2 linked regions of the Homo sapiens genome follow. The protein of the gene in region 1 interacts with the protein of each later gene in a biochemical or structural test. Each region holds a gene or a part of one and is shown in the gene's direction. Other genes may lie near its edges.

Region 1 (3,813 bases):
CCTCCCCCAGGTACTGCAGATGGAAAGGAAGCAGGGGGTACAGCCTGCAGCTGTGCTTAGCATGGGCTTCAGGGCTGAGGGAAAGCGGGGCTGGCAGCAGCTTTGGGGTTGGAGGGGCTATTTCACCAGCCTTTTTCCACCTCCCTGGCAGCAAAGTGGAGGGGGTGCACACACCCCGGCAGAAGAGGAGCACGCCCCTGAAGGAGCGGCAGCTCTCCAAGCCCCTAAGTGAGAGGACCAACAGTTCCGACAGCGAGCGCTCCCCAGATCTGGGCCACAGCACGCAGGTACTTCTGGGTGCCCCCAAAACACCAGGACCCTCTGAGATTCCCTGAACTTCAGGCTCTGTTTTGTTGGCTTCCTTGGACAGTTAGTTGGAGAGAAGAGGAATACTTGGAAATGCTCTGAACAAAAACTCTTGAAGAAAGACTAAATTAGAGAGGTCTCCTATATTCCTTGCTTACTGCCAGTGTGGAACTGGCTTCCACGCTGACCTCTAGGGCGCAGGCAGGGGAGCCAAAAACGCTGTGTGGTCGTGGCCTGCCACGGCTGCGAGTGTCGATTCCACACCACCGGTGTCTCTGCCTCCATCAGACGTCAGTCTGGAGATTGTGCCGTGAATCCACTGTTGCAGAGGACAGCAGCCTCTGGATCTCATGGGACATCCTGACCCGAGCTCCCAACCTGAGTATTGCTGTGGGCGGTCATCGTGCTTTCAAGCCGGGAAGCCAACAATATTAAACTGTTTCAATGGAAGGACCCGAGAGTGGGCTGGAGAAGAAGTCAGAAGAACTGGGCCTCAGGAATCGTGTTCTCCTTTTGAAGGCCTGTGGTGTCAGAGATCTGGGACAGGGATTTTCCCGGCACACCTTACACAGTTCCAGTTCTGCTAGGGTTAAACAGCCAGCCTGTTCATTCCCCTGATAACTTACCAAGTGCATTGTCAGTGTGGCCTCCTGAGCTCCATGCTATTACATGGCTGAAAATGAACTTGAGACTAGAATAGCCCAGTGCCTGGGGTGAGGTATTGTCCTTCTTGTTAATCACTGTTCCTGAAATACCTTTTGTTCCCTCAGACAGCAGGTACCCACACAGCACTCATTGCCACTCTCATTATTTCTCTCCCCACTGCCCTCGTTTCTGTTTCTCTGAGCACCTGCTGGCCGCCCTCTGCCTCTCCCTTCCTGGTTCTTACGCTGCTGCCCCTCCTGCCACCCACACCGTTTCCCATCCGCGAGGCTTGCTGCACCTCCATCCTCTCCACCTGCCCTGGCAGGACAACCGCTGTGGCTTTGTTCCTCATCTCCATGTGTCCTCTAAGGACTCGCTTTGCTGCTTCTTTCTCCTCCTTTCCATCGTGGTCTGGCCAGTGGGAGACTGAGTCTCCCTCCCAAAGTCCTGATATCTGTTCTCTCTAACACCCCTGCTCCAGAGACTCCCCATGCACCAGTCCAGCAGCCCTGTCCTCAGGCTCCCCAGGGACTCCCTAACAAGAGACACTTTCTTTTGTTCCTGCAGATTCCAAGAAAGGTGGTGTATGACCAGCTCAATCAGATCCTGGTGTCAGATGCAGCCCTCCCAGAAAATGTCATTCTGGTGAACACCACTGACTGGCAGGGCCAGGTAAGTGCTGAAACTGCGAGGCCATGTGGGGTCCTGGAGGGCAGGCAATGCCCGGTTGCATTGTCAGTGTGGCCTCCATACTATTGCGTGGGGAGGTGGGGAACTCACCCCTCCATCAGCCCCCACCTGCTCTGAACTGAGCCCAGAACTCTGAGTTCTAGTCCAACTTCTGTCATTATCCAACTTGTGGGATCTTAAATCACTAAGTTTGCTCTACCTCAGCTTCCTCATACGTTAAAAAACAAACAAACAAAAAGCAACAGTAATTCCTCCAGGGCGCCACATGCGTCAGGCAGCATAGTGGAACGGAGGCCTGTAGAGAAGCACCCGGCTGTAACCTCCAGGGCTGCCCCATGAAGGCAGGTCAGCAAGGCAGAGCATCCCTGCCTGCTCCCTCACCGCTGTCCACCTGGCTTAGACACTGGTGCCGGGGACACCTGGAGTGTCCTAGCATGTGAAACCCCCTAAGGCTTCCCATCTCTCACACTCTGCGTGTCTCGTGGGTCGGCCCCACCCCCTCCTTACTGGCAGTCCGGAGACCTGGCTGCCTTTGCCCAGCTTCGGTCTGAACTGCAGAGGACAGGGGCCCTGCAGCTCGGTCTGGGTCTCACTTGCCTCTTGGCCCTTGTGAAGGAGTGATGTGTTCTCACCTGTGTCCCTGCTCTCCTCCCTCCCTATCCCAGTATGTGGCTGAGCTGCTCCAGGACCAGCGGAAGCCTGTGGTGTGCACCTGCTCCACCGTGGAGGTCCAGGCCGTGCTGTCCGCCCTGCTCACCCGGATCCAGCGCTAGTAAGGGCTCTGGCCTCCCTTCTCCTGCCCTTAGAGATTCCCTCTGACCTCATCTTCCAACCCTGACTTCTAAGCAATGATAGACCCTCCTGGCCTCATCAGACCAAGAATTTGCAGAGGGGCGTATGTTTAGGGGGGTGGCGGCAGCAGGCTGTAGGGCTTGAGGCCCCGGCAGACCCCAGAGGATCGGGGGTGGAAATATCAATTCCTGTGCTCCCTGCCTCCCTGCCTGGACCCCCGCCATGCCTTGACTTGCTTTATCCTCTTAAACCCATGATGAAGGAGAGGACACACTGGTTTTAAAAAGATCTTTTATTCCTTCCATCTGCAACATGCTGCTAGACACTCAGGAGTCAGTGCTTCCCCTACCCTCAGGGCCTTCTTAAAAGGCCCAAGTCCCTTGCCCTTGTGAAAGAGAACTATGGATTCCAGGCCTGGGGGCACACACCCTGCGGGCATCCCAGGCACACTGCCGAGTCCTACGTTAGCCTCAGCTGTTCCGTCTGCTTCATGGGCAATGCCCTCTGACCCTGGATTTTTCTCTTGGTTGTGAAAGCACTGTGGCTTATTCCCTGTATGATCCTCTCTGTTTTATTTTGTGGATTGGTTTGCTTTTCCCCTGTGGGTTGTTGAGATCACAGAAAGTCAGCTCTGGGCCTCCCCCGGGCAGGATCCTGGCACCCCTGAGCACTGCTATGACGCTCCCCTTCCTCCCCAGCTGCAACTGCAACTCTTCCATGCCGAGGCCAGTGAAGGTGGCTGCTGTGGGAGGCCAGAGCTACCTGAGCTCCATCCTCAGGTTCTTTGTCAAGTCCCTGGCCAACAAGACCTCCGACTGGCTTGGCTACATGCGCTTCCTCATCATCCCCCTCGGTAAAGACGGGAGGCACCAGGAGGGCGTCGGGCATGAGGGTTCCATAGACAGATGCCTCATCTGGAACAGGACGGTGGGGTTGGGGCCTAGGAAGGGACAGTCAAGGAGACCAAGGCCGTGGCCAGGGACAGCTGCTCCCACACTGTCTCATCTCCTGACGAATTCACCACCTCTGGTTTTCCATCTACCAGGTTCTCACCCTGTGGCCAAATACTTGGGGTCAGTCGACAGTAAATACAGTAGTTCCTTCCTGGATTCTGGTTGGAGAGATCTGTTCAGTCGCTCGGAGCCACCAGTGTCAGGTAATGGCCCCGTGTAAGGAGCTTACTCCCACCCCCGGGGTCCACAGGTGCCAGCCTGGCTGCAGAAGGAGGCTGAGGTCATGCTGCTTTCCTCCCTGCAGCTCTCACCTTCCCGGTCACTCTGTCCATTCATTTTTCCATAAGTGTTTATTAAGCGGAGGCTCACTGTGCACAGCCCCTCCACTCTGCCAGTTTTCATCCTCTGCTATTTGCTCTGCTCCTGT
Region 2 (3,813 bases), on another chromosome or scaffold:
GGAAAGATGCATATAGCAACCTTACAGCTTTTACATGTTAAACATTCCTATTTTTAACTTCATTGCCAACTTTGAATAGGCAGTTATAGAAACTCTTATTTGTCCTCCTAGGACATGCCATTTTTTTTTTCCTTCTCATGGCCCTCATTTTCCCTTTGAATTTTTTTTTTTTTTTTTTGAGACAGAGTCTCACTCTGTTTCCGAGGCTGGAGTGCCTCACTTCACTGCAATCTCTGTCTCCTGGGTTCAAGCAATTCTCCTACCTCAGCCTCCCTAGTACCTGGGACTACAGGCGCCCACCACCATGCCCGGCTAATTTTTGTATTTTTAGTACAGAAGTGCTTTCACCATGTTGGCCATGCTGGTCTCAAACTCCTGACCTCAGGTGATTCGCCTGCCTTGGCCTCCCAAAGTGGTGAGAAAACAGGTGTGAGCCACCACGCTCGGCCTTGAATTTGTTTTTAATTTGAATTTTCTGCATACCTTTTGACATAAACTATATTACATCATGTTTGGACAGAGTGGGGTGTAATAAAAGTAGAATATGGTGACTTAACATGTCACATTTTTAAGGAATGAGGCAGATAGGTATTATTATTGGGTAATACATTTATTTGTTGCCCCTCTTTTTGAGACTCTCAGGTATTCTAACTTCCACCTTTGTAGAACAGCCTGTTGAACCCAAGCTGCATGTTTGGACATTAGTGGTATATCTCGTAGGGACTTTTGAAGAAGAATATTGCATGAAGATTCAAAATATCAAAACTAACTTTGATTATGTAAGAATACATCTCCTTGGTTATTTCGTGTGCAAAGATTGGGATCACAAGATCGTGCAAGGACGTCAGCACATCTGGCAGTACTTGGTGTTCACAGAGTGCATACCTGGGTCTTTGTTTCATTTCCACTATAAATTTCTTAACTGTTTTTAATTTTTCCCTTCTGCAAGGCGTGCAATGGAATTGAGTTTTGCCCTGGTAAATGGGAATAATATCCGAGGCATGATGAAAGAATTACTTTATTTTCTGGATTCGTGTGAGCCAGAATTTAAAGCAGACTGTGCATCTGGAATCTTTCTTGCTGCAGAAAAGTAAGATTTAATTTTTACCTTTATTGGTAAAGTCTGCTTGGAACTTTTGGAAGTGTCTTTAAAACATGGGGAGGGGGCTGGGCGCGGTGGCACACGCCTGCAGTCTCAGCAGTTTGGGAGGCCAAGGCAGGTGGATCATGAAGTCAGGAGTTCGAGACCAGCCTGGCCAACATAGTGAAACCCTGTCGCCACTAAAAATACAAAAATTTGTTGGGCCTGGTGGCACGCGCCTGTAGTCCCAGCTACTCGGCAGGCTGAGGCAGGAGAATCACTTGAACCTGGGAGGTGGAGGTTGCAGTGAGCCAAGGTTATGCCACTGCACTCCAGCCTAGGTGACAGAGCAAGACTCCATCTCAAAAACAAAACAAAAAAAAAAAAATGGGGAAACTACTTTAAATATGTTTAAAACACATAACATTTATTTCAAACCCTCAATTATAAATTAGCTTGGAGAAGGCTATTATAGCCAGCATTTAAATATGCTGAGACCAAAAAAATTTCACACTTTTATGAAATCTTCTCCTTTATCTGTTCTTTAACCTCTCATCTATGATGCTGGTTTTTTTTGTTTTGGGTTTTTTTGAGACAGGGTCTCACTTTGTCACCTAGGCTGGAGTGCAGTGGCACAGTCTCGGCTCAGTGCAACCTTGACCTCCCAGGTTCAGGGGATCCTCCTGCCTCAGCCCCCCAAGTAGCTGGGACCATAGGCTTACGCCACCACACCCTGCTAATTTCTGGGTTTGTTTTTTTCTTTTTGTAGAGATGGGGTTTCGCTATGTTGTCCAGGCTGGTCTCGAACTCCTGGACTCAAGCGATTCGCCTGCCTCAGCCTCCCAAAGTGCTAGGATTACAGGCATCAGCCACCACACCTGGCCTGTGATGCTGTTTTAATAAAGGCAATAGAACAGTTACAGCACCTGAATTGCAGCTCTATGCAGAATTTTGAGGAAGTACCTTATGATTTTAGTAGTACAGCTATTCTTTCTCTTCTTTCCACTCTGAATTTAAGGAAACAAGTTTTTAGTCCAAATGTTGTCTTGGTCTGAAAACAGTCCCTTTTCTTCTTTCTTCTTTATCGTCTCCTGCCCTGACTGAATGATTCATTTTCTCTGAAACTGAAAACAAATCTCATTTCTCAGCTTAGCAACTCTTATTGCAATCTTATGGGAAACATCTGAGTTTGACTATGTACCCTCTTTTTTTTTTTTCTTTAATTTTAGAAACGGAGTCTTGCTCTGTCACCCAGGCTGGAGGGCAGTGGCCCAGTCATAGCTTACTGCAGCCTGGACTTCTGGGCTTAAGCCATCCTTCTGCCTCAGCCTCCTGAGTAGCTGGGACTGTAGCTGCAAATCATCATGTGCCACTAATTTTTTAATTTTTATTTTGTAGAGATGGGGTCTTGCTATGTTACCCAGGTTTGTGTGGAACTCCTGGCCTCAAGCACTCCTTCCTCCTTGGCGTCCCAAAGTACTGGGATTATAGGCATGAGCCACTGAAGTCAGTTGACTGTATACCTTTTTATCACTCTTTGAAATGGCATTTGCTGCTAGATTTGAAGTTGAAATGTTTCCAGATATGTTCACTTATCCAGGGAACCTAGAAAAGACTGTAGGACAGGATTTTCTTCTCTTTTCTTTTCCTTTCTTTTCCTTTCCTTCCTTTCTTTCTTTCTTTCTTTTTCTTTCTTTTCTTTCTCTCTCTTTTTTGTTCCTTCCTTCCTTCCTTCCTTCTTTCCTTCCATCTTCTTTCCTTCTTTCTTTTCTTTCTTCTCTTCTCTTTCTTCCCTTTCTTTTCTTTCTTCTGTTTCTTCTCTTTCTTTTCTCTCTCTTCTTTCTCACTGTAGCCTCAACCTCCTAGGCTCAGGCAATCCTCCTACCTCAACCTCCCAGAGTAGCTGAACTACAGGCACCCACCACCACACCCAGCTAATTTTTGTATTTTTTGGTGAGATGGAGTTTCACCGTGTTGCCCAGGCTGGTCTCGAACTCCTGAGCTCAGGTGATCTCCCACCTCGGCCTCCCAAGATGTTGGGATGACAGGTGTGAGTCACCCTGCTTGGGCAGGATTTTCTAGTCACTGAAAACGGTATATTTTACTGGTTCCAAGTGTCCCTTTCCATTGTTTTTTTCAGGTATGCACCTTCCAAACGATGGCATATAGACACAATTATGCGTGTTTTGACAACGGTAAGTAGCTTCTTTCAGACAGCATATACGAAGTGCTGGGATATACTGATGTTATCATGAAGTTTATGTTCTAGTCAGGGAGGTAAGAAATTCACAAGTAAATAGGTAACATTAATGTCAGTTAGGAATAAATGCCATGAAGAAAAACCTAAAGCAGCATGGAGGAATATAATGATGGCAGGATAAGGTGGGATATAGGGCAACTGGCCAAGTGTTTTAGATTAGAGTTAGTCAGGGAGGTCTCTCAGAGGAGATAACATTTGAGTAGAGACCTAAGAGACATGAGGTGCAAGCCATGCAGAGATCGTGAGGAATAGTGTACCATACGGAGGGAACCCTAAGTGCAAAGACCTGAGGTAGGAACAAGCATAGCTTGCTTGGAGAGCAACAGGAAGGCAAGTGAAGCCATAAAGTGAGAGAGGCAGAGAATGGTAGGATGGATGTCAGAGACATAAGCGGAGCCAGACTATGTAGGCCTCATGGGAGCTTGCATTTTATTTTGAATATGTTAGGAAGCCATTGCAGGGTTTTGAATGG

The links.
Region 2: the proteins of PACS1 (region 1) and AP1G1 form a complex in vitro, tested with the Homo sapiens proteins (one study listed by IntAct).

Annotation. Positions count from the first base shown.
Region 1 is NC_000011.10:66,230,654-66,234,466, forward strand, and holds part of PACS1 (phosphofurin acidic cluster sorting protein 1), read left to right. Parts: coding exon 1-10; intron 11-151; coding exon 152-287; intron 288-1,518; coding exon 1,519-1,623; intron 1,624-2,306; coding exon 2,307-2,413; intron 2,414-3,131; coding exon 3,132-3,286; intron 3,287-3,478; coding exon 3,479-3,589; intron 3,590-3,813. UniProt on the Homo sapiens protein: Coat protein that is involved in the localization of trans-Golgi network (TGN) membrane proteins that contain acidic cluster sorting motifs.
Region 2 is NC_000016.10:71,753,296-71,757,108, reverse strand, and holds part of AP1G1 (AP-1 complex subunit gamma-1), read left to right. Parts: intron 1-949; coding exon 950-1,090; intron 1,091-3,221; coding exon 3,222-3,276; intron 3,277-3,813. UniProt on the Homo sapiens protein: Subunit of clathrin-associated adaptor protein complex 1 that plays a role in protein sorting in the late-Golgi/trans-Golgi network (TGN) and/or endosomes.